Homo sapiens: one gene and its partners. The protein of the gene in region 2 purifies or fractionates together with the protein of the main gene of each other region. This does not show direct contact. Each region holds a gene or a part of one and is shown on either strand. Other genes may lie near its edges. The genes, in order: PINX1, ST13, TSN, MAP3K3, SLK, CHAF1B and IPO9.

Region 1 (3,500 bases), on a different chromosome or scaffold from region 2:
ACAAACCAATAAAAGATCATCAGTACAACATACCAGATTAGCTGAGTAACAGTGGTCACAACCATATATTCCAGATTTTCTCAGACAATGCCAGTTCTAAATACTTTTAGCCTGTTATCTTTAGAAATCCATAATCCTAATATATCTCAAACTATATCCAGGGCTGTCTCTTACACTTCAAAACAGCACAAAAAATTCTTTGCAATATTATACAGCCCAATTTAATAATTAGAATAAATTATGGAGTTCATTCCATTGAGGGTGTAGTTTAGTCACCCCATTCTTTTCTTCTAGTTGTAAGGCAAATAATATTGTATAATAGAGGAAATACCCATCAAACCCCCTTATAGATGGTGCTGATCTAGCGCTGTCTCAAATGCTGTTAGAATGGGACAGGCTGGTTCTAGAGAATGAAGGTGACATGCTTCCTCCCACCTCCATTCCAAGTGGAGTAATGCAGTTTGAGCAGAACAGACAAAATCCCTCCCCTTCTCGGCCATGGAAGAGATATTTTCCCCTCTGATTGTATCGGCAATGGGTGTTCTTCCCCAAGTTTAATCTAGTCCTCACACCAAAACAAAAAGAACAAAAGCCAAACACCAGAAAACACTTATTCTTTTTTTTAAAGATTCCTTATAAAACATTATCTACCCACTAATATTATGAAAAGGATCATATCTAGGCTGTGCATGAAGCCTCCAAAGTGTTTTGGAAAGTTTGTCAGAAAAGTACTAGTCATAGATAGAAACAGTCCTATACACAGGTGAAAATCAGACAGTATTAAAGCGGAACACGGAAACTGTACGTGGCTTTATACCTCGGGAGTCTTCTTACTCTGTCTTTTCCCAAAAATGCAGTCAAGATCTGTTTTGCTCCGAGATGACAGATCCTTCCCTAGAAAAACAATGTGATGCTTTTCAGTAAGACTGTTCTTCCTAAAAGAAAGAGCGCAGACATGAACTATGCAGCACCTCAAAGGAAAATGGCTTTTGGGAAAGAAAGAAACAATTTTGAAACTACTGACTTTCTACCCACTTTTTCATTACAACTCTTTCATTAGTAAACAAAATTAATTAAATTTTAAAACCAAGTAAATGTTTTAGAACCAGAACTCTTGACATTCTCTTAATTGTAGAAACAACCTAGAGCATACTGACTGCAAGGAAAGCTAAATTCTACAGCTCACCCTACTCCCGCTATGCCCTCAAGATGCAATTCCTGGGTCTCTGGGTTCTTCATTTAAAAATAGATCTCATTTGCTTCAGAGACATGAGCTACTTACTTAGAAGATTACGAAATACACATGAAAAAATATCACTAGATACACAGCTCCAGACCCCACATATGCACATGAATGAGAACGTATCATATTTGACACACAGGATCTTAATAATTAACTCAACAAATAAAAATTTTAAAAGAATATATGTAAATCAAAAATACTGTAAAAGGGTGACAGGGTTTCAGATTTTTCTTCTTAAAATGTTCTTTACTGCTCTAGCTATATTGTCTCTAAATAAAAAGCTACATAGGGAGAGTAGGAAATTAAATGGCTCTATGGTTCTTATTTAAAACACTAAACTCTTTAATTTCAAACCCCCAAACCAACTAATTTAAAATTCACTTCTTTGGAATTTCCACTTCTACCCAATAATCCTCTGTGAGCAGTAGGCCAAATCTAGTCCCATTTGTCAACGGCATGGTAAATGCATTTTAAAATGTAACTACTCCATGTAAAGGCTTGAGGCTCTGGGCGAGGGAGGTTCTGGGTCAGACACAGGAATGTGAGTCTCACGCTGGAAGCCGAGTTCCACCGTCACAGACTCACTTGTCTTCTTGGTTTCCTGTAGCACACTGCCTTGGCAAAGTAATGTCATGACCCAGAAGGTTCTAGTTCACTATCACTGGGGCACTTAAATATGATATTGCTCAGTGACTCCGTGAAATTAAAAAAACAAAACACTCTTCAATTTAATGCAAAACCAGGTGCCAAAACCAGTTTCCTAGGCAGCAGTACCAGATGAAGTGGCCCAGGCGGTATGACCTGTTCCTGCCAGGAGGGCAGGCTCCTCTGGGCTCTGGCTGCTGCTCTCCTTCCTACCTGAGCTTGACACTAAGCCCTCCTGCTTTTCATTTATGATTAAATAGGACCTACACAAAAAGACCCAAAAGAAAACCTACTTAAGAATAGACGATGCACACCACAGATACGGCAGAAAATGAACCGGGAAAGTGGGGAAGAAAACTGGTTGTAGCGGGAAGAGGTGGACAAACTCATCGGAGGTGTAGAGATGTCCTCACAGCTTTGCTGCCAGCACAACCCATTTTCCAATGCAAAGCACAGTTTGTACTTCAGAAAAGGCAGCTGTACTTAATTCAAAATGTGTACTGGCCATCTATCCCTAACCTATCCTCTGGAATAGAGACACTCTAGAAAATGCAAATTAAGGTCTCTTCTATAGCAATTTGACTAAAAGGAATGCTGGAGGGATTAAGGAAGAGAGGGTACATGCGAGATCACAGTTCTAAAACATGATGTCAAAATGTGAACACACAGATTCAAAACAGATCTGAAAGTCAAAGGGAAAACTGTCAAGCTGGTAGAGACAGTAAGCTATATCAATGAAGGTGCAAATGTGTCTAAAGTTTTGATGATGGATTCTTGTATCAGAAATTTTTAGCCTTTAGCAAAGTTCACTTAAGTAAATGTAGAAACCAGGATTGTTACAGGCCTTGCTCTGGATTTGATCTGGAAAACAAGAACACAGAGAAGAAAGAAGAGTCAGAGACCAGTGGAAAGGAACATAAAAGGTGGACAAAAAGGTGAAGATGGAAGTGACCTTGAGATAGTTACTAATTAATGGTCCTGATGGAAAGCTTATAAACACCAGGAAATTATGGCCGCTTTTGAATAAATACGACAAATTTAAAAAGCATTTAAAAAGCTTATTTGTTTGAGTTCTGAATTATGGTCAAATCATACAAAATACTGTTGATAAACTTAGAGAAAACGACAATGAAGAAAACTGAATAGGAAACATCTATCTGGATTTGGTTCATCTATTAGTCTTCAATGCGTAACATTTCCAGAACCAGTAAGAAAGGCCTCCAAGAGTCAAACTGAAAGTTCCTGCAAGGATGAGCAGGTACTTTCAAGGAAGAACACTCTATTTAGGTTTGCTTTAGCTGTTTGTCTAATAATCATGATTATCAGTTTCCCAGTCTATCAGAGTAGCTACTGGGAAGGGAGGAACATTACTGCTATAGTCAGACACATTTACAATACCAAGAAATACACATGGGAGGCAACTAAAACTTTCATTGACACGAGAACTTAGGAATCAAGATGATTTGGAAACAGTTTAGCAATAACCCAACAAGCTGTATTAGAACTGAGGCTCAAAAAACCAACTCTATGGAAAAGCAGAGTTGAGCTGCCGAGAGTAAAGAAGTGAAGGGCAAGGAATATGTTTGCTAAAATAAAAAAACACTTAAGGTTT
Region 2 (4,710 bases):
CATCAGATTTAAATGTAAAGAGTTCTGAAAATAATTAAATTCAATTATTTACCTGTGTGCTTTCCCCCGCCACTTGTAAGGCTGAGCTGAATCAGGATTTATTTCAATGGCTCTGTCACAGTCTCGGATGGCAGCATTTGGCTTCTGTAATTTGACGAAGACACTGAAAAATAAGTGTGTTATTAAAAAGTATTCATTTCAGTAAAAGTTTTGGGATCAACACAGAAGCAACTCTATTTAAACAAATGTGCAGAAATTATTTGCCAGGGGATGCTTTTCTGTTTAGAGTTCTCACCTGGCCCTCTTGGCATACAAAATGGCCAAGCGAGGATTCAGCTTGATGGCATCTGTGAATAAGTCAATGGCTTTCTGGAGTTCACCTAAAGTGAAACAAAAGTTATCGAGAAATATTCAGAGGATAAAAATATTAATAAAAAGTTTTGATCTGTTATCCAGTTAAGTCTTTTACATTTTTCTTTTAATCAAGTAAAAATAAAAAAGACAACTAAGTTATACTAAAACTGGCTCTTGAAAGCAAATCTTACCACACCTATACTGTAACTCACGAGGTAAGACAATTTCTGAGTACGTAAGCCCCTAACTAACAATAGAATAGCACATTCTTAGTATGACCCATATTGATCTTGTTTAAGGAAAAAGTAGACGGGCACGGTGGCTCACGCCTGTAATCCCAGCACTTTGGGAGGCCAAGGCAGGCAAATCATGAGGTCAGGAGATCGAGACCATCCTGGCTAACACGGTGAAACTCCATCTCTACTAAAAAATACAAAAAATTAGCTGGGCGTGGGGGCGGAGCCCTGTAGTCCCAGCCACTTGGGAGGCTGAGGAGTGGCGCGAACCCGGGAGGCGGAGCTTCCAGTGAGGCGAGATCACCACTGCACTCCAGCCTGGGTGACACAGCACGACTCCGTCTCAAAAAAATAAAAATAAAAATAAAAGAAAAAAGTAAAAAGATAAAATCAATTTAAAGGATAAGATAAATTAATTTTATTCCATTGATTTTCTTTTATCCATTAAATTAAAAAGAAAAAATTAAGCTTAGAAAGGAAAAGTAACCCATGTTAACTTCACAGGGCTGATTTTAAAAGAAAACAACAATATGCTTATTATTTGAATTCAAAGAAATGGTACAAAAATTCAAGAAAACTAGAATTCATAAAAGACCATAACCTATACTTTAATTCATTTTGTCCTATTCTCATAGTTAGCTTCTTTACTAATCCCTTATGTCATTCAACAAATAAAACACCCTATAGAATCAGAAGAGTTCTTTGCACAAAGTCTAAATCTTGGGGAGGCAAGACAAATACAGAATTTTTTTTAAGAGACAGGGTCTAACTCTCACATAGGCTAGAGTACAGTGGCATGATCATAGCTCACAGGCTGAAGTGATCATCCCACCTCAGCTTCCTGAGTAGCTGGGAATACAAGCCCACAACACTAAACCTGGCTAATTAAAAAAAATTTTTTAGAGACTGGGCCTCACTGTGTCACCTAGGCTGCTCTCGAACTCCTGGGCTCCAGTAATCCCCCCAACTCAGCCTTCTGAGTAGCTGGGATTACCACTGTGCCAGGCCGAACACAGAAATTTTTAAATAAATGTCACAATTCACTGTGAAAGATACTTAGCCAGTTAGCGAATGAGTAAAGGACTTGAAAAGAACTCACAAAAACAACACAGAAAAATGCTCAGTCTTATTAATTACTACTACAGGTATCTATTATAGGTAATTACACTTAAATGTCTAATAAACAACTCAGACCTACCATGTTCAAAACCTAAATTTTTTTTATGACAGGGTCTTGGCTGGGCACAGTGGCTCACGCCTGTAATCTCAGCACTTTGGGAGGCCGAGGCAGGTGGATCACCTGAGGTCGGGAGTTCAAGACCAGCCTGACCAACATGGAGAAATACCAAGACCAGCCTGACCAACGTGGAGAAACCCCGTCTCTACTAAAAATATAAAATTAGCCGCATATGGTGGCGCATGCCTGTAATCCCAGCTACTCAGGAATCTGAGGCAGGAGAATCGCTTGAACCCGGGAGGCGGAGGTTGCGGTGAGCCAAGATCGTGCCATTGCACTCCAGTCTGGGCAACAAGACTGAAACTCCATCTCAAAAAAAAAAGGTCTTGCTCTGTCACCCAGGTTGGAGTGCAGTGACACAATCACAGCTCACTGCACCCTCAACTTCCTGGGCTCAAAGGATCCTCCCAGCCTCAAGGGAACCTCCCATCTCAGCCTCTCAAGTAGCTCATATTACAGAAACGTGCTACCACATCCAGCTAATTTTTTGTGTTTAAGAGATGGAGTCTCACTGTGTTGACCAGGCTGATCTTGGACTCTTGGACTCAAGAGATCCTTTCGCTTCGGCCCCTCAAAGTGCTGGGATTGTTAAGTGTGAACCACCACGCCCACTCAAAACCGAAAAACTGAATTCCCATTTCCTAGCCCATTTCCAAATCTATTCCCAATCTGTATCTTCCCAACTAAACAAATGGCTCCTCCATACATTTAGTTCAGGAGTTGGTAAACGTTTTCTGGAAAGGGCCAAATAAGAATTATTTTAATCTCTGCAGACCATACAATCTGTCATAACTACTCAATGATGCTGTTGTAGTGGGAAAGCAGCCACAGTTAAGTGCCAGACGTGGGATTCAAACCATACCACTCTGGCTCCATACTCCAGGTTTTAATTACATTCTCCAAACAAAACTGCCTTCACCAACCTTGGTGGAGCTTGGATTCACAACCCCTGCTTTAGAATACTAATCTTTTATCCTTTAGAATACACTATACAATTGCATAAATTCTAAAATCAGAACTAGATTAAATTTACAAAGGCACATGAACAGAGAGTTCAGAAAAAAGTGAGAAAACAAAAACATGATTAGGTGATAGCCTCATTTTCCTTTTGTTACATATTGCCGAGACAGTAAATTTTAAAATGGGCTGGGCACAGTGCCTCACACCTGTAATCCTAGCACTTTCAGATGCTGAGCTTGGGAGGCCTGCTTGAGGGCAGGAGTTCAAGACGAGCCTGGGCAACAGGATGAAACCCTATCTCTACCAAAAAAAAAAAAAAGAGATAATAATTAGCCAGGCATGGTGGCAGGCACCTGTATTGCCAGCTACTCAGGAAGATTGCTTGAGCCTACAAAACTTGAGGCTGCAGTGAGCCATGACCATGCCACTGCACTCCAAACTGAGTGGCAGAGTAAGACTCTGTCTCTTAAAATTTAGGTGGTAGGGAAATTAGCAAAAGTTTCGTGCGATGAAAAGGAATGGTACAGAAGAGCAATGGCTGGGAACAACTGATAGGTATGAATTAAAAGTTGAAATATGTGAAGAAAAGCTTTCCAGAGAAACAGTATAGCATAAATAAAAAAAAAAAAAAAATTCTAGAACAGTAAAGTCTGACTGGAGAAAACAAGATTGGAGAAGTAAAATACAGGATCTTAGTCTGGCAGGTCTATAATCCTCTGATGAAGATCTTAAATATATATGCAAAAGTTAATCACAGGTTACAAGCAAGAGTAGAATAAAAAACAGCTCTAAGAATAACCTAGGGAAAGTAAACAGAAAGCAATAAAGGAATAAATTTTTCAGGAAGGTAAACTATTAAGGCAACTGCAGTATAAAACAGTATAAACATGTTTTAAGGAGCTAAATTAATCAGGTGGTAGAATCACAAAATGTTTAAAATATATACTAACTCGGAACATCAATACTGAACTCATTCTAAAAATAACTTCAATCATCTTCTAAATCTAATAATGAAGTCCAAATGCACATGAGCACTATACAATAGCATCTAGTCAACTATGGCATTGTGACACACTATCACTGTTATAAAGAGTGAAATATTACTCAAGCAGCCACAGTACCCAAGTTTATACATGATTTGTTCTTACAAATTATAACCGATCAAACATTACACTTAATACTACCATGGGCCGGGCGCAGTGGTTCGCGTCTGCAATCCCAGCACTTTGGGAGGCAGAGGCGGGCACATCACTCGAGGTCAGGAATTTGAGACCAGCCTGGCCAACATAGTGAAACCCCGTCTCTACTAAAAATACAAAAATTAGCTGGAGATGGTAGCACACGCCTGTAATCCCAGCTACTAGGGAGGCTGAGGCAGGAGAATTGCTCGACTTGGGGTGGAGGTTGCAGAGAGCCGAGATCACGCCACTGCATTCCAGCCTGGACGACAAAGCACGACTCTGTCTCAAAAATAAAAAATAAAATAAAATACAACTGAAAAACAGAAAAAAGAAAAAAATAATAACCTATTGTTACCTTGGAGAGTTAAAAAAATAAATATATATAAAAAAAGAGGCTGGGCGCAGTGGTTCATGCCTGTTATCCCAGCACTTTGGGAGGCTGAGGCGGGCAGATCACGAGGTCAGGAGTTCAAGACCAGACTGGCCAGCATGGTGAAACCCCTTCTCTAATAAAAATACAAAAAATTAGCTGGGCATGGTGGTACGCGCTTGTAATCCCAGCTACTCGGGAGGCTGAGGCAGGAGGACTGCTTGAACCCGGGAGGCGGAGGTTGTAGTGAGCCGAGATCGCATCACTGCACTCCAGCCTGGGCAACAGAGTGAGAATCCGTCTCAAAAAAACCAACCAAACAAACAAACAAAAAACAAAACCGAATACTATCACCACTTTCTCACTCTGAGG
Region 3 (2,703 bases), on a different chromosome or scaffold from region 2:
TTTCTTGCTTACCTTGACTGTTGATGTACTGATTGAGAAGTTCATTGTCTCGTTTGTGATTCTTCCAGATGTGATGCTTGATATTTTCTATATGCGAGTTAGCCATCCACACCCAGGCATAGCCTGGATACAGTATAAAAATAGATAATTAAAAAGATGGTTGCCAAGCAAGGAAAACTTATTTTATATTTTCCCTTCCTTATTTTAAGCATTGTGAGTAAATCAGATGTTGAATTCTTTTGCCAAGGGAATTATAGCTGCAGGTTCTCTCTCACTGCCATCAAACTGTAAAAGATTAAACTGCGAAGTCAAGCTCAACAGATTATTTTGGAAAGTTTTTGTATTAAGGGATTTAGTAACATCATTTTGTTTTCCACCAGGCAGGGAGTAGGGCTTAGTGTTTTAAAACACCTCTGCTTTCTGATGTTGCCTTAATATTCTGCTATTGCAGCAATTAAAAATTGTCTTCATGTACATTTGGAACTAACACGTGATGTGATATATTCCTAAACTATGAAACCTTTTTCCTAGTAGTCAGCTAGATCATTTGTTCTGGGAGTATAAAGCCACCCACGTAAGTTAATAAGCAAAATCCTGACTATTATGTTGTTAGAGAAAAATGCTTTGCTTTGTCTGGAAGAAAGATAAAATAGTGAATTATAAATAAGTCAGGCCGGGCGTGGTGGCTCACACCTGTAATCCCAGCACACTGGGAGGCCGAGGCAGGGGGACTGCTTGAGCTCAGGAGTTCGAGACCAGCCTGGGCAACAAAGTGAGACTCCATCTCTATATAAAAACAAAAACCACGAAAGCACACACAAAATAAATCAGTGGGATTTGGTAATGTGTTTTAGAGTAAGAAATTTCAGGTTGTTGGTGACTATCCCAACAGTCATGTTTTAAATGTACAGTTTGGGGCAAGTCATGTAAATACTGTTGGTGGTCTTCCCCACACGCCCCAATTTTCAGGTAGTACTAAGAGTATGTGCCAGGAAACTCTTGCTATTGAATTGAGATGATTAAAATGGTGACTTAATCCGTAGTTATTTTGCACCCACTGAAAGGAAAGTGCTTTCCAGAATAATATGAAGTATCTAAAAGTGTCACCTTTTCTTGCCTGATCAACAATTTGGGCTTCCTGTTTGTACAAGGGGCCATTTGGCATACCTTTCACAGCTTTTATCAGGCCAAGTTAAAGGCTGACTACATTTTTTCATCATGAGGAAAGCAGTTGAAATGAGGCATGAGTTACTGTGCATTGGGATTTTAGAACAATTTTCTTGTGACAGCTCTTTTTGTGAAGTTAGGTTCTTAAAAGTGCCCATGATGGTCACTTAAAATGTGCAGTAATAGCACTGCCAGGATCAAGCATGAAAGGCTTTTAAATTAGATCATCCCACAGACAATACGTTTGATAATAGTTTTTTCTTTTAACCTCTTTAAGTATTGATTCTGCTTGAGAATATTGAAGTACTTGCCAGAAGTTGTGGATTTCAGTTTTAACAAATGCTATTAAAGTGGAGAAGCACACTCTGGTCTTGGAATTCCATTTGAGGATTTAGAAGTGTCATGTTTATAACTATTCAGTTGTGTTTGTTGCTGGCTTGTTGTAAAGCAATAAAATTTTTTTGGTCTTTTTGTAAGTGAGTGTGCTGCTGTAAGAAATCTCCCATGTGCATAACAAATTCTGAATATTTTTTGAGGCTAAAGAAGACCGGGGTGACAAGCAGATACTGCTGTGTAATGGTTACACTAACCAAAAGACACCAGCCACTCAGAGTTCTATACTGTAAAGCGCAGATAACATTTGTGTGTTATACCTTGATTGGGGAATTAAAAGTCATTTAACTGAAGATGTTGAGAAACCTGGGCTCTGGTTTTAGTATACCGGAATTACTTTTTTCCAATTTTAGAAAATCAAGCAGGTTAGAGAAAATAGAGATGAATTAGGGGACACTGTCTTATGGATTCATTTATAAGAAGAGAACCAGCCATATACACTTGGGGAGATTTGCCACATCTTAAACTTGAATAATAGTATGAGTAATGCTTAAGGGAGTTTAATAGAGAAGGAAAGCTTTGGCAGTGTTTTGAGAACTTAAGTGGCTAAAGAGATGAGACAAACATGCAGGTCGCTACTGGCATAGTTTCATAATTGTGTACTCGGAAATTAAAGTTTGCTTGTTTCTTGGTCTGGATTAAACTGTTTGTCCTCCTTTTCAGATAGAGCATCACAGTCAGGGCTGACACCAAAATAAGACTTTCCCTGAGCCTGAAATAATTTTTTTTTTTTTTTAAGTATCTACTGTAATAAGCATCAAACAAGCAGAAATAAACAATGTCCCTTCCCCTGGACAACAACAACAGCAATAACAAACATTTAAAGGCGGTAAAATTGCCAGGACTGGTGGGTTGGTTGAGTGGGCTGGGTGCGGGTAGTAGGACGAGATGGGACGGGACGGGGAGGAATCTAGCATCGCTGCCAGGTTTCTGGCTCAGGTTTGGTGCCATTCACTGAGGTGAGGAGTGTAGGAAGATCGCATGTCTGGAGGGGGCTGGGCAGCTGATGCATTTGCTTTTGGATGTGTTGGATTTATGACACTGGAGCGGCAGGTGGATAAATCAAAAGTGGGTAAGATCTCCCTGGAGAACGTGTAGAATGAGAAGAGTCACAAGCTGGGGACAAATTCTTGGTTAACAGCA
Region 4 (4,710 bases), on a different chromosome or scaffold from region 2:
CAGCAAATGGGCCTTTTTGTCAAAACATGAAAGTGTCCTTTTTCTCCCCATGCAATGGGAAGAATAGTTAGAAAGGTACCATCCTCCCCCTTAGTTTGAAAGGCAAGTTTCCAGGAGGGAGAAAAATGCTTGGCTGGCATCCCAAGGAGCTCTGGCAGGAGAGCAAAGCAGAGGCTCTGCTTTTCTTGTTGGCATGTTCTTGGCTCATTAACACTGGAGCCTGGCGCTGGAGATGGTACTACCCTGCTGAGCCTTCCAGTGAGTTCGGGTGGGACCTTAATGCTTCTGTTTACACTCCATAATTTATAATTTACAAAGACAAGGATTGCCTCATTTCACAGATGAGCACTACAGGCCTAGAAAGGTTAGGAGACTTGTCTAAAGTCATAAAACTAGTTAGTGCACAGCTGATACCAGAACAAAAATGTCCCAGTTCCTGGTCCAATGCAGAGGTAATAGATATCTAAATATAATAAAATATTTCTCTGGCCCCTGGTCAAATGCAGCAACAAAAGGCCTTTGGAATCCCTTTTTCTCCAATCAATGTCCTGAAGGTCCTCCCTTTCATTTTCTCTGCACAAAAGTTGGGGTGGGGTCTTCAATTTCAGAATATTCATTATCCGAGCTCCAACATTAAACATTACATAGGGGCCAGACTTGGTGGCTCATGCCTGTAATCCTAGCACTTTGGGAGCCGAGAGGGAAGGATCACTTGCACTCAGGAGTTCAAGACCAGCCTGGGCAACATAGTGAGATCTTGTTTCTGTTTAAATATTTTTTTAATTAATTTTAAAAAATTACATAGGGAAACAAAGTATCAGAATTATGAAAATTCACTAACGACCTCCATAAAATTAGTTTCCAACTCAAATATTTTTTCCCATTTAATACCAGGGTCCATCCCCACCCATAATTTCAAATGCTTTAAGTCATGTTGTCACACATGATTTTTTAAAATCTGCCAATCAAGGCAAATTAATTGCAAAGTAAAACTGCAAATGTTGCTAAGGATATAGGATAGCCAAAGTGGATGAAACCAACATCGGAGAGAATTGCTTTAAATCCATCAGATGCATATTTGGCAAATTTAGACTAGTTAACAGAAAAAGACAAAATGGACAAATAAATAACATGGCAGGTGTGGTGGAGGAAGAATACCAAAGATTCACAAGAGGCCTTGGGGAAAACTGCTGAGTCCTGTGAACGCTCTTGTAAAAAATGACGTTCTTTATGGTTAGAAGTCAAGCAGGGAGTGAAGGACGTTACATTGTGCTAGCATTTTGTTGTTGGTGCTGTTGTTCGAGACAGGGTCTCATTCTGTCACCTAAGCTGGAGTGCAATTCACTGCAGCCTGGGCTCAAGTGATCCTCCCACCTCAGCCTCCCGAGTAGCTGGGACTACAGGCAGGTGTGCCACTATGCCCAGCTAATTAAATTTTTTTTTTTTGTAGAGACAGGGTTTTGCTATGTTGCCCAGGCTGGTCTTGAACTCCTGACCTCAAGCAATCCTCCTGCCTTGGCCTCCCAAAGTGCTGGGATTACAGCTATGAGCCACTGCGACCGGACTGACATAATTTTTGTTGGAAAAATTAGGCCAAAAAATTAACATGAATCATGCTTTGCTCATTCTAAAAATTAGTAAATAGATGCAATTATTGCTTAAACCTGATTAAAGAAAAAACAAAACTTATCATATTTTCACTTTTCAGTAAAGTCACACTGGAATATTCTTTTATTACATACTATGCAGTGTTCGTTCCTGTTAAGCAGATTGATCTCAAATGGCCTGTTACCAGGAGCAATTCTCTTCAGCTAAAGAGGCAGGCGCTGGGGGAGGACCTTGGCAATCCCCAACCACTGCCTTCCTTGGCCTCTTTCTAAAAGTCTGTCCTCACTGGGAGTCAAATCCTCCCAGGCCTTCCAGGGCCATGCAGGCAAAGTAAAAAAGTGAAGGGGGCAGAGTATAGGACCATGGCGAGGGACATAGACTGAGGGCAATCAAGCTCATCTGCAATCTCTGGGATTTTACACCCAAGTCACCCCTAGAACAGCTGATGTCCAGAAGTGCCCTGGTTAGAGAAACCAGAAAGGATGGTCAGTAAAATGCCCAAAAAGGAAATCTGCAGCTAATGGCACTCCAGGTCACTACTCCAAACATGAATTTATCTGGAAGGCAGGAGTATAGAAGGAAGAAGAGTACAAAGGGCTTCTCATAGCCTACATAGTTTGAATAATGAAAGAAAAGTTACAAGAATCAGCTTTTTATAAGATCTCCCATGTGACAGCACAGGCCCTTCTGTTGGACATTTTCCCCTTAAGAAATTTCCCCTTCTCAGGCCAAGCCCAGAAAGTGTAAGAGCAGCCTTTTCTTTTACATCAAAGCAAGTTTATTGAAAAGACCAGAATGAAGCTAGAGATCTCATGCTTGGTGAGTTCACTAAGCCAAATTGCCATTTGCATCAAGTAAGCCACCAATTTAAAAGCTAGCCACTAAAATGGCTGAGCCACTGTGGTAGACACACCCTAAGGTGATTGCTCCCTCTTCCAATTAGTCCCAATGAACTGCCTTTCCCTTTAGTGCAAGTAGAACCTGTGACGTGAGTCTAGCCAATAGACTATGGCAAAGAGGATAGAATATTCATTCCTATGATTATGTGATGTTTTATGACTCCATCTTTGCAGATTGGAGCAAAAGATTCTCCTGCTGGCTTTGAAGAAGCTGCCATGTTGTGAGAGGGCCCCATGGCAAGGAACTGCAGGTGGCCTCTAGGAAGGGAACTCAGAGAAGCCCTTGGGTGACATTCAGAAGAAAAGAGGAACCACAGTCCTACAGCCACAAAAAAACTGAATTCTGGCAACAACCATCTGAGCTTAGAAAAGAGCCTCAAACTCAAGAAAGGCAGGCAGCCTGGCTGACACCTTGATCGCAGTCTTGTGTGACCCTCAGCAGAGGACCCATTTGAGTCATGCCTGGACTCCTCACCCAGGGAAACTGGAAAATGATAAATGTATATTGTTTTAAGCCTCTAGGTTTGTGGTAATTTGTTATGGAGCAATAGATAACTAATACAACTGTCTACCATCATAAATGATCAGCCTAACCAATCCTACAGTGTAATTTTGATATGGTTTACTCCTTACCTTTCATCAAGAAACAGCAAAACTAAAATATATCCAATGAAAAACATAACCTGTCACTTTAGAACCAGTCGTATGTTAAAACACTACTGAAATGAGCTGGGCGTGGTGGTGCCTGCCTGTAGGAACAATGAGAGGACCACGATGAAGAAAAATCTGTTAAATCCTCACCCAACAACAAGGAAACTATGTAGTTTAGATCCTTTAGATCCCATCTTTGGCAGAAATTGTTATTTGGCCCTTAAAAAGGGACAATCCATATTTGGGCAGGCCTGGTTTATAAAAGAGCTTTCAAATGGGGTTCATGTCCCTCAGTTCTGCACTGTGACTACTAAGAACCCCTTGTTATGAGCTTGGTCTGCTGATACAGGCCACAGGCATATCCCAGCCCCCCTATACTCACGCACTGCTCGCTGGTCTCTGGGATGAACTCCCCCTCACTGTTGATGCTGGTGTAGGACCCCTGCCGGGCAATGTGCTGCTGCCGCTCAGGAACATAGCCAGGGGGAGGTGAGCTTCGGCCAGGGTTCTGGGAGCCTAGAGCACATAAAGGAGGCTTTCAACAACAGAGCCCAGGGTGTGTGGCCCAAGAGGAGCAGGCATGGGGCCAACTATTAGGCCCTAGAGGTCAGGAATGTGACTCAGATGGGTCATGGCACCAACGTCCAGCATGTGCCAGCTCCCTCAGGCAAACAAAGTCCCTTCCTAATAGGAAACAAACTCCAGAGATGGAGCAGGCACTACGGCATATCCGACCAAAAAAACCTTGACACAAAACAGAAACCAGAATAACCCCTAGGAGACCATTTTAGCTGGCAATCAGACTAGCTTTTAAAAAAATTCTTATATATAATTACTCCTTCATAATGTCACCTTCTCTCTTCCTCTAGAGCACTAATGCCATTTCCTCCCATCAGCTCAATACATCAGCTTAGTCCTCTTTAGTTTTGGGTCCAAGCAGTATTTTGAGGGTGGGGACCAGGGAAAGGTAACTGAATATACCTGTGCATCTCTCTCTGTTGCCCTGTTCCCCCAGCCAGTGTCTCCCCTTATTTGTTCTCTACTTGTATCAGGTAAAAAGGCCTTCGTGATGGTCTGGCCAGGATCAAAAGGCAGGCTTCTCCATTCCTACCCACTCCCACACTTCCTGGCTTATGAGTAATGATATTACCTTTTTTTTTTTTTTTTTTAAATTGAGACAGGGTCTCACTATGTTGCTCAGGTTGGTCTGAGTAATGATATTATCTTGCATTTATGTGGTGCTTTACTTTTTGTTACACATTCACAGTAATTAACCTCATTTGATTTTCAACATCTCTACAACAGAGGTTTGGCAAATATTTTTTGAGTGGCTGCTAAGTGGCAATCATTCCACAAGGTATTTTTACATTTGTTACTTCACTTAATCCTTTCAACAATCCTGAGAGGTAAGCATTTGCTTTACTTAACAGAGGAGGAGACGGAGACTCAAGGAACTTAAATCTTAAAAAAAAAAAAAACCCAAAACACCCAAAAACAATTATTTATGTTTTACAGATAAGAGACTATAAAACCAATTAACAGGTACTTTCAC
Region 5 (4,710 bases), on a different chromosome or scaffold from region 2:
AAGCCAGGTGAGAGGAGAATTTTAAGAAACAAGACTTTTAAGGAGAACAGTTAGATAAGGCCATAGGATTTGACTATTAGCAACTCACTTGTGACCACTGTCAACTAGTTCAACTAGGGTGTTTGAAGCAGATGCTAGGCTGCAAGTAGGTAAAGGAGATTTTACACCGTTTACAATTCTGTACCTTTTGAATTCTAAACTACATGAATGCATTACCTATTCAAAAAGTTTAACAATAAAGAAAATTTAAATTAAAAAGCCACACTATGGGCCGGGCATGGTGGCTCACGCCTATAATCCCAGCACTTCGAGAGGCCCAAGTGGGTGGATCACCTAAGGTTTGGAGTTTGAGACCAGCCTGGCCAACATGGCGAAGCCCCGTCTCTACTGAAAATACAAAAATTAGCCAGGTGTGGTGGTGGATGCCTGTAATCCCAGCTACCTGGGGGGCTGAGGCAGAGGAATTGCTTGAACCCAGGAGGCGGAGGTTGCAGTGAGCCGAGATCGCACCATTGCACTCCAGCCTGGGCGACAGAGTGAGACTCTGTCTAAACAAACAAACAAAAAGCCACACTATGAACTCATTTAGTCATTTCACTTCCTTTGGCACATAGCTAAATACATATTTCCTTGACTGATTGTATGGATGGAAGAAAGGAATGGTGGAAATGTACAGTAGGCAGGAAGCTCCCCCCAAAACAAAGGTTTAAGTTTGAGTAACGAAGGGTCAGAGATCATATAGTGATAGCAAAAACTCAGGTGAAATGGTTAGCCAGTAAGACCAGGTGAATAGGGTGTCAAGCACAAACAAGGGAAAGGGGTGAGACAGAGAAGACACCATCCCTATTTTACCAGATTTCAAGTTTACGTAGAATAACAGGGCCTTTTAATATGGCTCCAGTTGACCTGTTCAGACTCAGCTGTCATCGCTTCCTTCCTTCCTTCCTTTTCTTCCTCCCTAATGACTACACACTGGCACACACCCCCTCTCATACTCCAATGTCAGAGAACGATCTACAATTCTCTGTACGCTTCCTTTTCACTCATTCTCTTCTCCCTACTCAAATCATCCCATTCCACTCCAATCAGCCCATCCGCTTAGCAAGTTCTTACTCACCCTTCAAGACTCACTTGGCTTGCAAGGCATCTCCTCTTGAAGACCCTCCCTGACTTACCCAGGCAGATTTAAGCTCTCCTCCTCCTCTGCTTACAAAATCTGTTCCTTTCCCTTGTATCCTGTACTCACCTCCTTCAGAGCAATGACCCTACCAATTCCTAACTGCTTGTCACTAGATTCCAAAACTTCTGGGGACAAAAACTTTGTCTTTTCATCTCTATGTTTCCTGCCCCTGACACTGTACCTGACACAGTAGGTAAAGAGCCAATAGCTGGGTAGACGGACGAGTACACACATATCATTTTAATTAAAGCTTTTAAAATTACCTTTTTCCTAGGTCTCAATTTCTCTCTCCACTCCTTTAATTCTTGGCTATGTTCCTCATCTAACTCCTTCAGTTTCTGAGTCTCATGCTCAACCAACAAGTGGCATTTTTCATTCTGAAAATAAAGTTGGGATTTAAAAAAATTTCAGATCAACTAAGCAATTTTTCACAAATACAATTATCTTCCATAATAATAAATTACTCATCAAATATCATGCTATTACTGAGATTCAAGTTTTCCTCTATAAAAACCAAGGGCCATGAATTAGGAAATGAATCATAGCTTCATTTTTACAAGTTTAGAAGCTAGAACTATTACATACCATATAAAAAGAACTTAAAAAGAACTAGCTTGAGCTTTTGTTTTTCCTTTCTAAGAAGATTTGCTCATAAAACTGACACTTCAGAAGGCAGCCTGCATACATTTTACCCGTGAGTACAGAATGTGGGATCTGGTACTAAAGGGTTGGCCTAATAGATCTATTCCTGTAAAAGATCTATTGGCCCATTAGGCCAATCTATTAGGATCTGTTCTACTATAGTAAATTAAGCAAATATATAGATACCCACATTTATACACTACTCTGAAATCTTAAACATTTTAGATGGGCTGTACATTCTATGTAAGGTCCTAAATCAGCCCTCTCTCGAATAACTTTTAAATTTCCTAGGAGAAAAATTCCCATATATTTAACTTATCACTTATTTCAAAAACCTAGAAGAAAATAAACTATTTCCCTCTAAATGGAAAAGAAATTTTAAATTTAGAATCTGACAAAAAATTCAGAATATGACAACAAAACTGTCTACATCATTTTGAAACTCTCCACATCTTCTTGCAAAATATACTAAAAACCATACTCAATACTGCTTTTGAAAGACTCAATTTCGTAGGTTACAATTTAGCTTTATGTTTACATTAATCATGGTTATATATAATCTACACAAGTGCCTATGATACCAAACTGATCTTCATTTGGATCTGTACAAAAAACAGAACCTCTCAAACCCAGCATGTTCGTGTATGATGCAGTTGACTTTGGCTAGCTACTGTTCTCTCAAAAGCAGCCACTTGTGCTGCCGCATCCTATGGGCTTTGCTGTCAGGCTTCTGTATCTGACCTGCAGCTGATGCAGTTCGCGGACATTGGCTTCACACTGCAACTGAAGATCTCGCATTTGATTCTCATGTTTCTGATGCTGAGCCATTCTCTCATTTTTCTGCCTCTTTTCTTCTTGTGCAGCAAACTATAAATAAGAAAAAAAGATAAACTATAGTTCAGAAGCATGTGATTTCTATATATTCTGAAGATATAAAGGAATTTAACAAAACAAGGCACAATAAACTGAAGCTACAAGTAATAATATGCTGAGACTCAAACCTGGAGTCCACATCACAGCTTCAGAGAAGAGCAGGAACTTCTGATTAAAACCTTGATCCTCCTATCTGCTTAGTGATCTGAGTTAATTTGTGTGTGTGACCATGACTACAGAAGTATCACAGTGAGGCCATATATCTTGACTTGAAAAGTTGTCCGAGTCATCTCATTCCCAGGGCTGGTCTTAGGACCAGTCTAGCTCAGGAGCTGGTATGGGGTATAGGAGGAAGGGCTTTGCTCTCTGTGACCACCATCCTGGGGAAGACTAATTGGTATATGCCATGTATCTATAGTCCCAGCCCACAGAATTAAAGTGAACATCAACAAGCCTAAGGTGGCTCTAATTGTTTAGAAAGAAAGGAATTTTGTAGAACTTCTAATGGTCATTCAAAAATTTTAAACCTAAAAGAGAAGAGACTAACTTGCATATTTACCTGTTTAATTTTATCACGGTCCTGATCTGGTGTGGCTGTTGAGTTAATTCTCAAACTCTTCTTAAACATGGCCATTCGAGTCTTGGCTTCACTGCGCTGAATCTTGGGCAGTCTTGCTCTTTCTTGAGTCTGTCTGTTTTTCAATTCCTCAATAAGTCTTTGATTGTAACGCTGCATTTGCTCTGTTTCCTATGAAAGTTTTAAATAGAATCCAGTGACGCAGAAACAATAGTCAGTACCCACATGCATATTCAAATATGTCATTTTGTTATTGTTGTTTCCTATAATTACCCTCTCCCTTGTTGCAGTGACCAGCAAAATACTAGGCACAAAATAACTTGTAAGAAGTTAGGCTAGGTCTGGTGGCTGACACCTGTAATCCCAGCACTTTGGGAGGCTGACATAGGAGGATCACTTGAGCCTAGGAGTTTGAGACCAGCCTGTGAAACATAGTGAGACCCTGTCTCCACACACAAAATTTTTTTTTTTAATTAGCAGGGTGTGGTGGTGCATGAATGTACTTGGGAGGCTGAGGTAGGAGGATCCCTTGAACCCAGGAGTTCGAGGTTAAGTGAGCTATGACTGAGTGCCACTGCACTCCAGCCCAGGTGACAGAGCGAGACTCTGTCTCAAAAGAATAAAAAGAAAAGAAAGTTATTAGTGATGAGAGTTTTATACTGCAACTCTTAATAAGTACAAGGAGTCCATACTTTAAGATACTTGAACCACAAATAGAGCCAAAATAGCTACCTTTGAGAGCCGAGATGAAGATTACAAGGTGTAAAACGTCTTTAAGCATTGTAATTAGTTACTTTCCTTATAATTTGTAGAAAAGAAGTTTGCAATCATGATCAAGATACAATTAATTACTCCAAACTTCATCCAAGAAATTGTAGGATAAAAGACAGAAAGGAAATCTAAAATTCATTATCTAAGAAACTTAAGTTTCAAAACTAAATAGCTTTGCAAACTTTAAAACGAACAAAAAAATGAAGAAATTTTCCTTTCATTAACCTTCTCGTGGCGCTTAAGTAGCTGATGTCTTTGCATGAAATACTGATCTTTAAGCTGCTGTTTGAGCAGCTGGTGTTTTTCTTGTAAGTGTCGTTCTTCGAGCTCCCAAATTGCAGCTTCTCGAGCTAGAAGACAGCAGTTTTCAAAATGTCACTTTGCTCTTTTTTTACTAATGTACTTTGCTCTTCATTTTAATATTTACATAGAAGTATTCTAAATACACTAACTCGTACACACATGTTGACATTCTGAGCTGTCCAAGTGCAACTGTAACCAATGTAAGGCAATATCTATTACCTCTTTCCAGACTGTTCTAATGTCGTATAAACAGAGAATGTCCTACTCCGAACACCAAAATCCTATTTAATCATCTTAATAAGAAAGAAAAAAAAATCTAAGCTAATTTGTTAGGGAAGATAAGTACTTTAAATCCCATTCTAAC
Region 6 (4,334 bases), on a different chromosome or scaffold from region 2:
TGAGAATTTGTGCATGAAAACAAGTGTGTTACTTCAATATGCCAGGCAAGGGAAGTACAATCTGGCTCAGCTTCCAGCTGCATTAACTCAGTCTCTCGTTTCTCTGTGGGTGACCCCCCCCTACATTTTCTCTTACCCCTCTCCCCTACCAAAGCAAACAAAGTCCAAGGTTTTCTAGCTGTAGAGACTTTTTCTGATGAAGAAACAGGCACAGACCCATGAAGTAATTTGTCCAAGTCTGTCTGTCCTACACACACACCCAAGGTTGAACTGTAGCTTAATAACCAGGGAGGCTGCAGAAGTCCTGGGAGACCCCAGACCAGGGAAGAAGGGGCTGGAGCAGCTCATCCTCCACCTCCTCCCTCTCCCCATTTGATGTTTCCAGAGCCAAGGACTTGGAACCTATGTTGTTTAAGTGAACGCTGACAACTATTTAGGTAAGGAGGGCCAAGGGCATCGTTACACAGATGTGCTTTCAGCAAAGACGACGGAAGTGGATATAAGGGAGGAAACTGGAGTAAACGAGGACCCCAGGAGACTTTCTCCCCTGCCCCGTGGCACATCCTCCTGCCCCTCTCTGCTAGAGGGCCCTGGCCCTGTGGGCACTTGCTGAGGATGGCTGGGCCCGTTATCCACGATAACCCGAGGAGGCACCGCATACCCCTGTCCACCGTACGGGCCACTGCATAAAATGAAGGCTTCACCCTCTGCTGCCCACGCTGAGCCTCCAACTTTCTTCCTTCAAACGCCGACCTATCCTCACAATCCCAGATTCCAGGGAAGTCAGGTCAAGTTCTCCCAAGCAGTCTCCCCAAGCCTGAGACTGATTTTCTTCTAGGCACCCCCAGCAGCAGGAACTAATATTCAACAGTAGAGTTGCTAGAGACATCTGGAAATACTGCTCAAAACAGAAACAACGACCCCTCCAAGTACAGATCCAGAACCATGAGAAGGATCTTCAACCCAGCAGCCACTGTAAGGTGGAAGCCTGCCCAACCTTCAGGCTGGGCTCCCTTTGCAAAAGCTTTCCCAATACACTGCCCAGATGGTTGCAGGCAGTTTTAGACTATGACACTGAAGTGACTTCACTTGGTCTTTTATTGCCAATTTTGATTTATATTTAAGGATGATGGCTGAGAACAGGCAGGCCATCAGGGGTCCCCCACCCCAACTCCCACAATCAATGCACAAGAAACAGATTTGTAAAACCTAATACTGTTCTTCTTTTTCTCTTTTTTTTTTTTTTTGAGACAGAGTCTCGCTCTGTCGCCCAGGCTGGAGTACAGTGGCACCATCTCAGCTCACTACAAACTCCGCCTCCCGGGTTCAAGCGATTCTTGTGCCTCAGCCTCCCGAGTAGCTGGGATTACAAGTGTGTGCCACCGCGCCTGGCTAGTTTTTGTATTTTTAGTAGAGATGGGGTTCCACCATGTTGGCCAGGCTGGTCTCAAACTCCCAACCTCAAGTGATCCACCCACCTTGGCCTCCCAAAGTGCTGGGATTACAGGTGTGAGCCACCACACCCAGAAAAACCTAATACTGTTCCTCCCCAGGTATGGCCAGGAAGCAGGCTGCTCAATAAGGACAGGGGACCCATGGTCATTCATCTGTCTGCACAGGATCAACAACTGCAAACCGCACCTCACGCCAGCCACATGACACTGAAAGCTGTCTCTTTTCAGAAGAGCTGATGGCACCTCCTGCATACTGTCCTTCAGTCCGCGGCCCCAGCAAAGGAGGATGTCAATCAGTGACGGGGCAGAGATAATCAAGAAAATGCTTTCGGCTGGGCGCGGTGGCTCACGCCTGTAATCCCAGCACTTTGGGAGGCTGAGGTGGGCAGATCACGAGGTCAGGCGTTGGAGACCAGCCTGACCAACATGGTGAAACACCATCTCTACTAAAAATACAAAAATTAGCCGGGCGTGGTGGCGGGTGCCTGTAATCCCAGCTACTGGAGAGGCTGAGGCAGGAGAATCCCTTGAACCTAGGAGGTGAGGTTGCAGTGAGTGGAGATTGCGCCACTGCACTCCAGCCTGGGTGACAGAGCGAGACTCTGTCTCGGAAAAAAAAAAAAATGCTTTCAGTGGAAATGCATTTAACCAGAACAGACCGTATCCAGGGAAAGTTTTTTCCCTTAGATTTCTCAATCTTGGCTGCGCATCAGAATTACTCCAGGAGCTTTAAGAAATCCTAATATTCAGAACATACCCCAGACCGATTAGGCCAAATCCTCCGAAGCGGGAACCCAGGCACTGGTATGTCAGCTCTTAGGTGATTTCAGTATGCAGCTACAGTTGAGAACCACCCGTCAAAACAGATACCATTTGACCAGGCATGGTGTCTCACGCCTGTAATCCCAACACTTTGGGAGGCTGGGGAGGGAGGATTACTTGAGCCCCAGGAGTTCGAGACCAGCCTGGGCAACATGGAAAAACCCCGTCTCCCCTAAAAATATAATAATTAGGCCAGGTGCAGTAGCTCACACCTGTAATCCCAACACTTTGGGAGGCCGAGGCAGGCAGATCATCTGAGGTCAGGAGTTAGAGACCAGCTTGGCCAACATGGCAAAACCCCATCTCTACTAAAAATATAAAAATTAGCCGGATGTGGTGGCACACACCTGTAATCCTAGCTACTCAAGAGGCAGAGGCAGGAGAATCGTTTGAACCCAGGAGGCGGAGGTTATAGTGAGCCGAGATTGTGCCACTGTACTCCAGCCTGGGCGACAGAGTGAGACTCCATCTCAAAAAAAAAAGAAAAAAAATATATATATACACACATACTTGTGTGTGTGTGTATATATATATATATGTATCATATATATGTGTGTGTGTGGGTGCATGTGTGTGTGAAATTAGCATGGCATGGTGGCACATGCCTGTAGTCCCAGCTACTCGGGAAGCTGAGGTGGAAGGATCGCTCGAGCCCAGGAGGTCGAGGCTGCAGTGAGCTGAGATAGCGCCACTGCACTCCAGCCTGGGCAACAGAGCAAGACCCTGTCTCAAAAAACAAAAAAGATACTTTTTTTGCTTTGAAAAACCAATCTAAAAAACTAACCTATTTAGATACCAAATTGCATATGAAATAAAATCTCAATTCTCTTTTTAGAATAAATAGATCCACAAAAATGCTAAGGAAATATACTACAACATTAACGAGGGTTACTTCTGGTGGGAAGATGATGGGTGATACCCATCTTTTTCACTTCACTTAGTTACTAAAAGAATAAGCATCGTCACCTTTAAAATCAGAAAACAAACACAACTACCTTCCAAAGTTTAATCAATCAACTCCTTAGAAGTGAAATCTAACAATCACTTCAAATACTCTAAAATTCGACAGAGTAAAATCTCAAATTACTTTCTCATCTTCCTAATTCTTATTGAAAAGGAGTCCCTCCATGAAGTGTGTGCACTTTCACGAGGATGCCAGGGAGGACTCACTGATTTTCACACTGGATAACGTTGAACCGCTCCAGTTTCAGAAACTCATCAAAAAGAGGATTTACTACGTTAAAACGTTCATGTCCCAAGTTAAAAATGGATACTGAATACAACAGCATCCATATTTCTGGAGAAAAATCAGTACACATGTCACTTCTGTTATAGAAATCCATTTACAGTGTGTCCCGCTCCATGGAAGCCCTGGTCTCAGGCACCTCCAGCTTTACCGTCTCCCTGCACACACCGGGAGCCTGGTAGGCTTCGAGCAGAAGCCGAGGTCCCATCAAGGGTCCAGACTTTCCGTGCCTCCTTTGTTTTCATCGAGTCTGGGCCGCTTTAGCTCTGGGGGACTGCCCTGAGCGTCTCCAGGCGTCTCTGCAACATTAACAAACATAAGGTTGGCAAGTAAATGAAGAATTCTGGAAGTCAAGGGCTGACATTTACAGAATACAGAGCCAAGACACGGAACTGAGCTGCCTGGCAAGATCCTATACTGATATAATGGAAGTTCTATAGAGTGGCTCTCAACCAGGGGCGATTTTGCCTCTCAAGGGACAGTGGGCAATGTCTAGTGGCATTTTTGAATGTCATGGGCAAGCTGGGCGCGGTGGCTCACGCCTGTAATCGCAGCACTTTGGGAGGCTGAGGCGGGTGGATCATTTGAGGCCAGGAGTTCAAGACCAGCCTGGCCAACGTGGTGAAACCCCCGACTCTACTAAAAATACAAAAATTACCCGGGTGTGATGGCGCACGCCTGTAGTCCCGGCTACTCGGGAGGCCGAGGCAGGAGAATTGCTTGAACGTGGGAGGTGGAGGCTGCAGTGAGCCGAAATCGTGCCACTGCATTCCAGCCTGGGCGACAGAGCAAGACTGCATCTCAAAAAAAAG
Region 7 (4,710 bases), on a different chromosome or scaffold from region 2:
CTTTCATTCTTTCACAAGTATACAGTGGAGTTTTCCAGAGGTTATATGGTATGTGATATCATGGCTCTGACAGCCAGGGGAAAACATGTTTCCATTTCTTTTATTTTAAAAACAACTCAGTTTTAATCTTTAGTATGTTAAATATTAATAAATTAAAGCCACATAAAAATGTCTTTTAAATTATTGATAATTTGTAACCAAAAAGTTTCAGAATGGTTGGTGTAGAAAAGGTTTTAGCTACAGGTAGGATTAACAAATGATATATATTGAGCCTTTTTCCAGACTAAATAACAAATATTCTAAAATTTCCAAAGTTTTTGAAAAATCTTTGCTAGGGTAAACTCTATAAGAAATGTGTTGATGGGCTTCAGAAATCATTCAATGTGTAACTATGGGATGCCTACTCAAGGCACTTGTAGGATACAAAGATTAGACATGATTTCTACTCTCAGAGACCTTACTAGTAGGAGTAAGAAAACATATTCAACAATGCAGCATATGATAAGTACAGAGTGAAACAGGATATTCCCAACGCATCTGAGCTCTGGATGTACAACCATTTTAATTTGTGATTCAGAGAATGGAAGTGATGGACTGAGACACCCGATAATAGATTACCTATTTAAAATCACAGAGCAGAACATTTTCAAATGACATAAGCTACTCCCAGAACTATCCTATGGAGAGGAAGTAAATGGACCGAAAATGGAGCAAACAATACCAAAGGTTCCATGATTTAAGTACTGAGAGAGAAAGCAAAGGCAGTGTTTTCGGATGGTGATCTGGCTCCAAGGATGAGAAAAGGCATGGCATGGCAGAAGCAAGTAGCAGAAAATGCCACATAGACAACAATGATTCTCAGCTACTGCTCTGTATTGCGGAAGAAATCGGTCTAATAGTAAAGGGCTACCTTTTTTTTTTTTTTAAACCAAGTCTCGCTCTGTCACCCAAGGTGGAATACAGTGGTGTGATCTCAGTTCTCTGCAACCTCTGCCTCCTGGTTCAAGTGATTCTCCTGCCTCAGCCTCTTGAGTAGCTGGGACTACAGGCTCCTGCTACCACACCCAGCTAATTTTTATATTTTTAGTAGAGATGGGGTTTCGCCAAGTTGGCCAGGCTGGTCTTGAACTCCTGACCTCAGGTGAGTCACCTGCCTTAGCCTCCCAAAGTGCTGGGATTAGAGGCATGAGCCATCGCGCCTGGCCTACTTTTTTCTTTTTAAGACAGATGGCTAACATGGGTATGAGAATGGAACATTTTAATTATTTGGATATTGGCCAAAAATAAAGTTTGAGAAAAATGACAGGAAACAAACAGGAAGAATGTGCCTGATACAGAATGCCTGAGGGCATTCTGGACTTAACAATGGGAGCAGTACTCGATAATTCTCAAGGTACAGCAACCAGATTTGGATTCCATTCAAATGCCAAAAACAACCATGAATGGGAACGCCAATTTGGGAAGAAACATAAACATCACGGAAGAATTATGAACTAGGCAATATTAGATTGTCATTAGGTGAAGCTTGAATCGGCCTCTGGGCTGTTTTAGAGGTTCGGATGAGTTCAAGCTGTAGGGTGCAAACAATTTTCACTCAAAGGACACAAGAATATCTGGCCTACCAGTCTAAGTGAACAATATAACCAAGTTAATGACAGGTTTAAAGAGTTTCCTTTATATATATATATATATATATATATATTATACTTTGAGTTCTAGGGTACATGTACACAATGTGCAGGTTACATATGTATACATGTGCCATGTTGGTGTGCTGCACCCATTAACTTGTCACTTACATCAGGTATATCTCCTAATGCTGATCCCTCCCCCAACCCCACAACAGGTTTAAAGAGTTTCTAGAATCCTGGCACGTGCTGAAACATACCTGAGAGGTTGAGGTCTGCAAGGATGACATTGGTCAGGAACCCATGCATGTCAAAATGAATCCTGCCATTTTTCACACTGTCAGTGATGATGGCCTTCACTGAGCCTAGGGCAAGCATGCATGCCTCATGGATCTTCCACCTGTGAAAGGATACTACAGCCTAGTAAAACATACTAAACTGCCAAAAGAGATAAATATTTGAGGAAACAAGATTCAGAAAAGGGCACTCCAGCACAATCTCTTCCAAAAGAGTCATTTACCTTAAGCCCTTCCATTCTAACCTATAGCTGAAAAGAGTGAAATTTTAATAATAAGAGATTAAAATCTGTTATTAAATTAAAACCAGATTTTCAAATTAAGATAAAAATAAATCCATCCTTTCAAGACTTTTTAAGAAGGGGTAAACAAAAGCATCTTAACCAATTAGCGGCTCACTCTTACCAGTGCTCAGTGCCACTGTTTTTGGTTTGCTCAGCTTCTTGTAAATGTCGAGTGGCTGCAGCAGCCAGGGCTGCTGCACTTTCATTCTGGAAATCTGTGGCCACAGCCTATAGAGAGAGAAGAGCTAATAAATCTGTTTGTGCCCATTAAATGCATTTTAATTGTAAACCGCTTCAGTCATGACTGTTAGAAGTGATTGGTTCAAGCTCTTTCACATACATGTGCAAACCCCTAATTGTATTAAAAATGTTATACCAGTAGGTCAGGGTCTCTAATGAAATTAAAGTAGTATCTGTATTTCGGTAGTGCCTAGGCATTGTAAGGCTAACCAGTTGGCTCCTTTGGCTATATTCAGCAGAGCATAAGTGAGCAATAATAGATCTAGCTTTGGATGACAATGGACCAAATATTTGCTCTCTTGGAGACTGATGATAGAAAAATAAGTCTAATCTACTAATTGGAACTGAATATAATCTTTCACAGCTCCTTAGAAATACTAAATGATAATGAGAAGTGATTCATCAACAGAGAACAAATCTCCTACCCAACAAGAAGCAAGTGGCAGTTTCTTCTTAGTATTTCAGCCTAGAGACAACTCTATGCTCTAGTCAGAAGAGGCAAAGAAAACATGAGCAGGTATTTGGATGTTAATCTTTCAGCAATCTGTTTTGTTTTGCTAGGTTTGCCAACCTTTTGTCTGTGCTATAGATTCTTGTTGAAGAGTGAATTAAACTGAAATGGCTTTTTTTTTTTTTTTTGAGACCAAGTTTCACTCTTGTCGCCCAGGCTGGAGCGCAATGGTGTAATCTTGGCTCACCACAACCTCCGCCTCCCGGGTTCAAGCAATTCTCCTGCGTCAGCCTCCCGAGTAGCTGGGATTACAGGCATGCGCCATCACGCCCGGCTAATTTTGTATGTTTAGTAGAGATGGGGTTTCTCCATGTTGGTCAGGCTAGTCTTGAACTCTGGACCTCAGGTGATCTGCCCGCCTCGGCCTCCCCAAGTGCTGGGATTACAGGTGTGAGTCACCACGCCCAGCCATAAACTGAAATGTTCTTGATTCAACTACCCTTACTCCATGGAACACTTTATCCTCTATACAATTCTCCCCCGCACCCCGGCCCTATGGTCTGCACAATTCTTTTATCTAATATTTAGTTTTAAGTTAGAACCAGTAGCAATGATTTTAGAATTTCTGAGTCTCGAATTTCATTTCAGAAACTCTCTTGCATCCCCAATAAAGTCTGAGATAAAGCCACCCAACAACACTGCTCACCTTGGATTAGTTGTCTACAAAAAAGAAGAAATGCTCAAGTGACTGATAGAAATTATGTGGCTGAAGTATCAAGGTAAACTTACCAGCAACAAGTCTTGAGCTGCTATTCTAACAGTATAGGAGAATGTATCATCATCTTCATCTTCTACAAATTGTTGGGGGTTGGCTGTCCATACTTTAATCTGAAAAGATCAAGTTATGTCTTTGTGATGCTGCCAATCTGATTCATAGCTTTTCATCAACAGATACAGGAAGATTTCAACCTATTATCCTGAAAAAACTCTAGCCTTTTGCTGGATGCAATGGCTCACAACTGTAATCCTGACACTTTGGGAGGCCAAGGTGGGAGGACTGCTTGAGCCCAGGAGTTTGAGACCAGCCTGGGCAACATAGTGAGACCCCACCTCTACAAAAAATAAAAAAGTCAACTGGGCATGGTGGCATATGCCTGTGGTCTCAGCTACTCGGGAGGCTGAGGCAGGAGGATGGCTTGAGCCTGGGAGGTCAAGGCTGCCGTGAGCTTTGTCTACACCACTGCACTCCAGCCTGAGCAAAACAGCAAGACCCTGTCCCAAAAAGCAAACAAAACAAAACAACAACAACAACAAAAACTGAAACAAAAACTCTAGCTTAAAAAAATCTTTTCTTTTTGATGTAGAGAAATAAATACTATTAAGTAGCAAGGTAGGTAGCAATGGCTATTGCTCTCTTTTAGAATCTGGCTGATTACTAGCTCTCTGCCAATGTCAACCTGCTGTTACCCTTTGATAGATCGATTTTCTGAATAGATTAAGTCTGATAGACTATTTATTGTGAAAATTATGTCAATTCTTGTGCTGTTTTAAACGAGGCGTTATCTAATTTTTGAACGTTCTTTGCTGCTTTTGATGACCCACCATCAGGCTAATGGTCTGATTATTACATTTTACTTTAGGGAAGGAACAGATTCTCCTAAAAATCAGTGTCTTAGGTTAGTGGTCCTGTGAGATTTTCTAATGGCAAAAGTGGGCCAGGCACAGTCACTCATGCCTGTAATCCCAGCACTTTGAGAGGCCAAGGTGGGTGGATTGCTTGAGCCCAGGAGTTAGAGACTACTAGCCTGGGC

Evidence for each region.
Region 1: the proteins of ST13 (region 2) and PINX1 purify together in Homo sapiens (co-immunoprecipitation; one large-scale study listed by IntAct). This does not show direct contact.
Region 3: the proteins of ST13 (region 2) and TSN fractionate together in Homo sapiens (co-fractionation; one large-scale study listed by BioGRID). This does not show direct contact.
Region 4: the proteins of ST13 (region 2) and MAP3K3 purify together in Homo sapiens (tandem affinity purification; one large-scale study listed by IntAct). This does not show direct contact.
Region 5: the proteins of ST13 (region 2) and SLK fractionate together in Homo sapiens (co-fractionation; one large-scale study listed by BioGRID). This does not show direct contact.
Region 6: the proteins of ST13 (region 2) and CHAF1B fractionate together in Homo sapiens (co-fractionation; one large-scale study listed by BioGRID). This does not show direct contact.
Region 7: the proteins of ST13 (region 2) and IPO9 fractionate together in Homo sapiens (co-fractionation; one large-scale study listed by BioGRID). This does not show direct contact.

Annotation. Positions count from the first base shown.
Region 1 is NC_000008.11:10,819,376-10,822,875, forward strand, and holds part of PINX1 (PIN2/TERF1-interacting telomerase inhibitor 1), read right to left. Parts: intron 895-3,500; coding exon 818-894; intron 1-817. UniProt on the Homo sapiens protein: Microtubule-binding protein essential for faithful chromosome segregation. Mediates TRF1 and TERT accumulation in nucleolus and enhances TRF1 binding to telomeres. Inhibits telomerase activity. May inhibit cell proliferation and act as tumor suppressor.
Region 2 is NC_000022.11:40,835,508-40,840,217, forward strand, and holds part of ST13 (hsc70-interacting protein), read right to left. Parts: intron 381-4,710; coding exon 296-380; intron 164-295; coding exon 53-163; intron 1-52. UniProt on the Homo sapiens protein: One HIP oligomer binds the ATPase domains of at least two HSC70 molecules dependent on activation of the HSC70 ATPase by HSP40. Stabilizes the ADP state of HSC70 that has a high affinity for substrate protein.
Region 3 is NC_000002.12:121,765,651-121,768,353, forward strand, and holds the end of TSN (translin), read left to right. Parts: 3' UTR 1-2,203; downstream 2,204-2,703. UniProt on the Homo sapiens protein: DNA-binding protein that specifically recognizes consensus sequences at the breakpoint junctions in chromosomal translocations, mostly involving immunoglobulin (Ig)/T-cell receptor gene segments.
Region 4 is NC_000017.11:63,680,730-63,685,439, reverse strand, and holds part of MAP3K3 (mitogen-activated protein kinase kinase kinase 3), read right to left. Parts: intron 3,675-4,710; coding exon 3,541-3,674; intron 3,105-3,540; exon of another isoform or gene 2,682-3,104; intron 1-2,681. UniProt on the Homo sapiens protein: Component of a protein kinase signal transduction cascade. Mediates activation of the NF-kappa-B, AP1 and DDIT3 transcriptional regulators.
Region 5 is NC_000010.11:104,018,467-104,023,176, reverse strand, and holds part of SLK (STE20-like serine/threonine-protein kinase), read right to left. Parts: intron 4,394-4,710; coding exon 4,269-4,393; intron 3,444-4,268; coding exon 3,255-3,443; intron 2,690-3,254; coding exon 2,564-2,689; intron 1,558-2,563; coding exon 1,444-1,557; intron 1-1,443. UniProt on the Homo sapiens protein: Mediates apoptosis and actin stress fiber dissolution.
Region 6 is NC_000021.9:36,415,762-36,420,095, reverse strand, and holds the end of CHAF1B (chromatin assembly factor 1 subunit B), read right to left. Parts: intron 3,822-4,334; coding exon 3,730-3,821; 3' UTR 1,081-3,729; downstream 1-1,080. UniProt on the Homo sapiens protein: Acts as a component of the histone chaperone complex chromatin assembly factor 1 (CAF-1), which assembles histone octamers onto DNA during replication and repair.
Region 7 is NC_000001.11:201,856,173-201,860,882, reverse strand, and holds part of IPO9 (importin-9), read right to left. Parts: intron 3,788-4,710; coding exon 3,689-3,787; intron 2,437-3,688; coding exon 2,330-2,436; intron 2,029-2,329; coding exon 1,889-2,028; intron 1-1,888. UniProt on the Homo sapiens protein: Nuclear transport receptor that mediates nuclear import of proteins, such as histones, proteasome and actin. Serves as receptor for nuclear localization signals (NLS) in cargo substrates.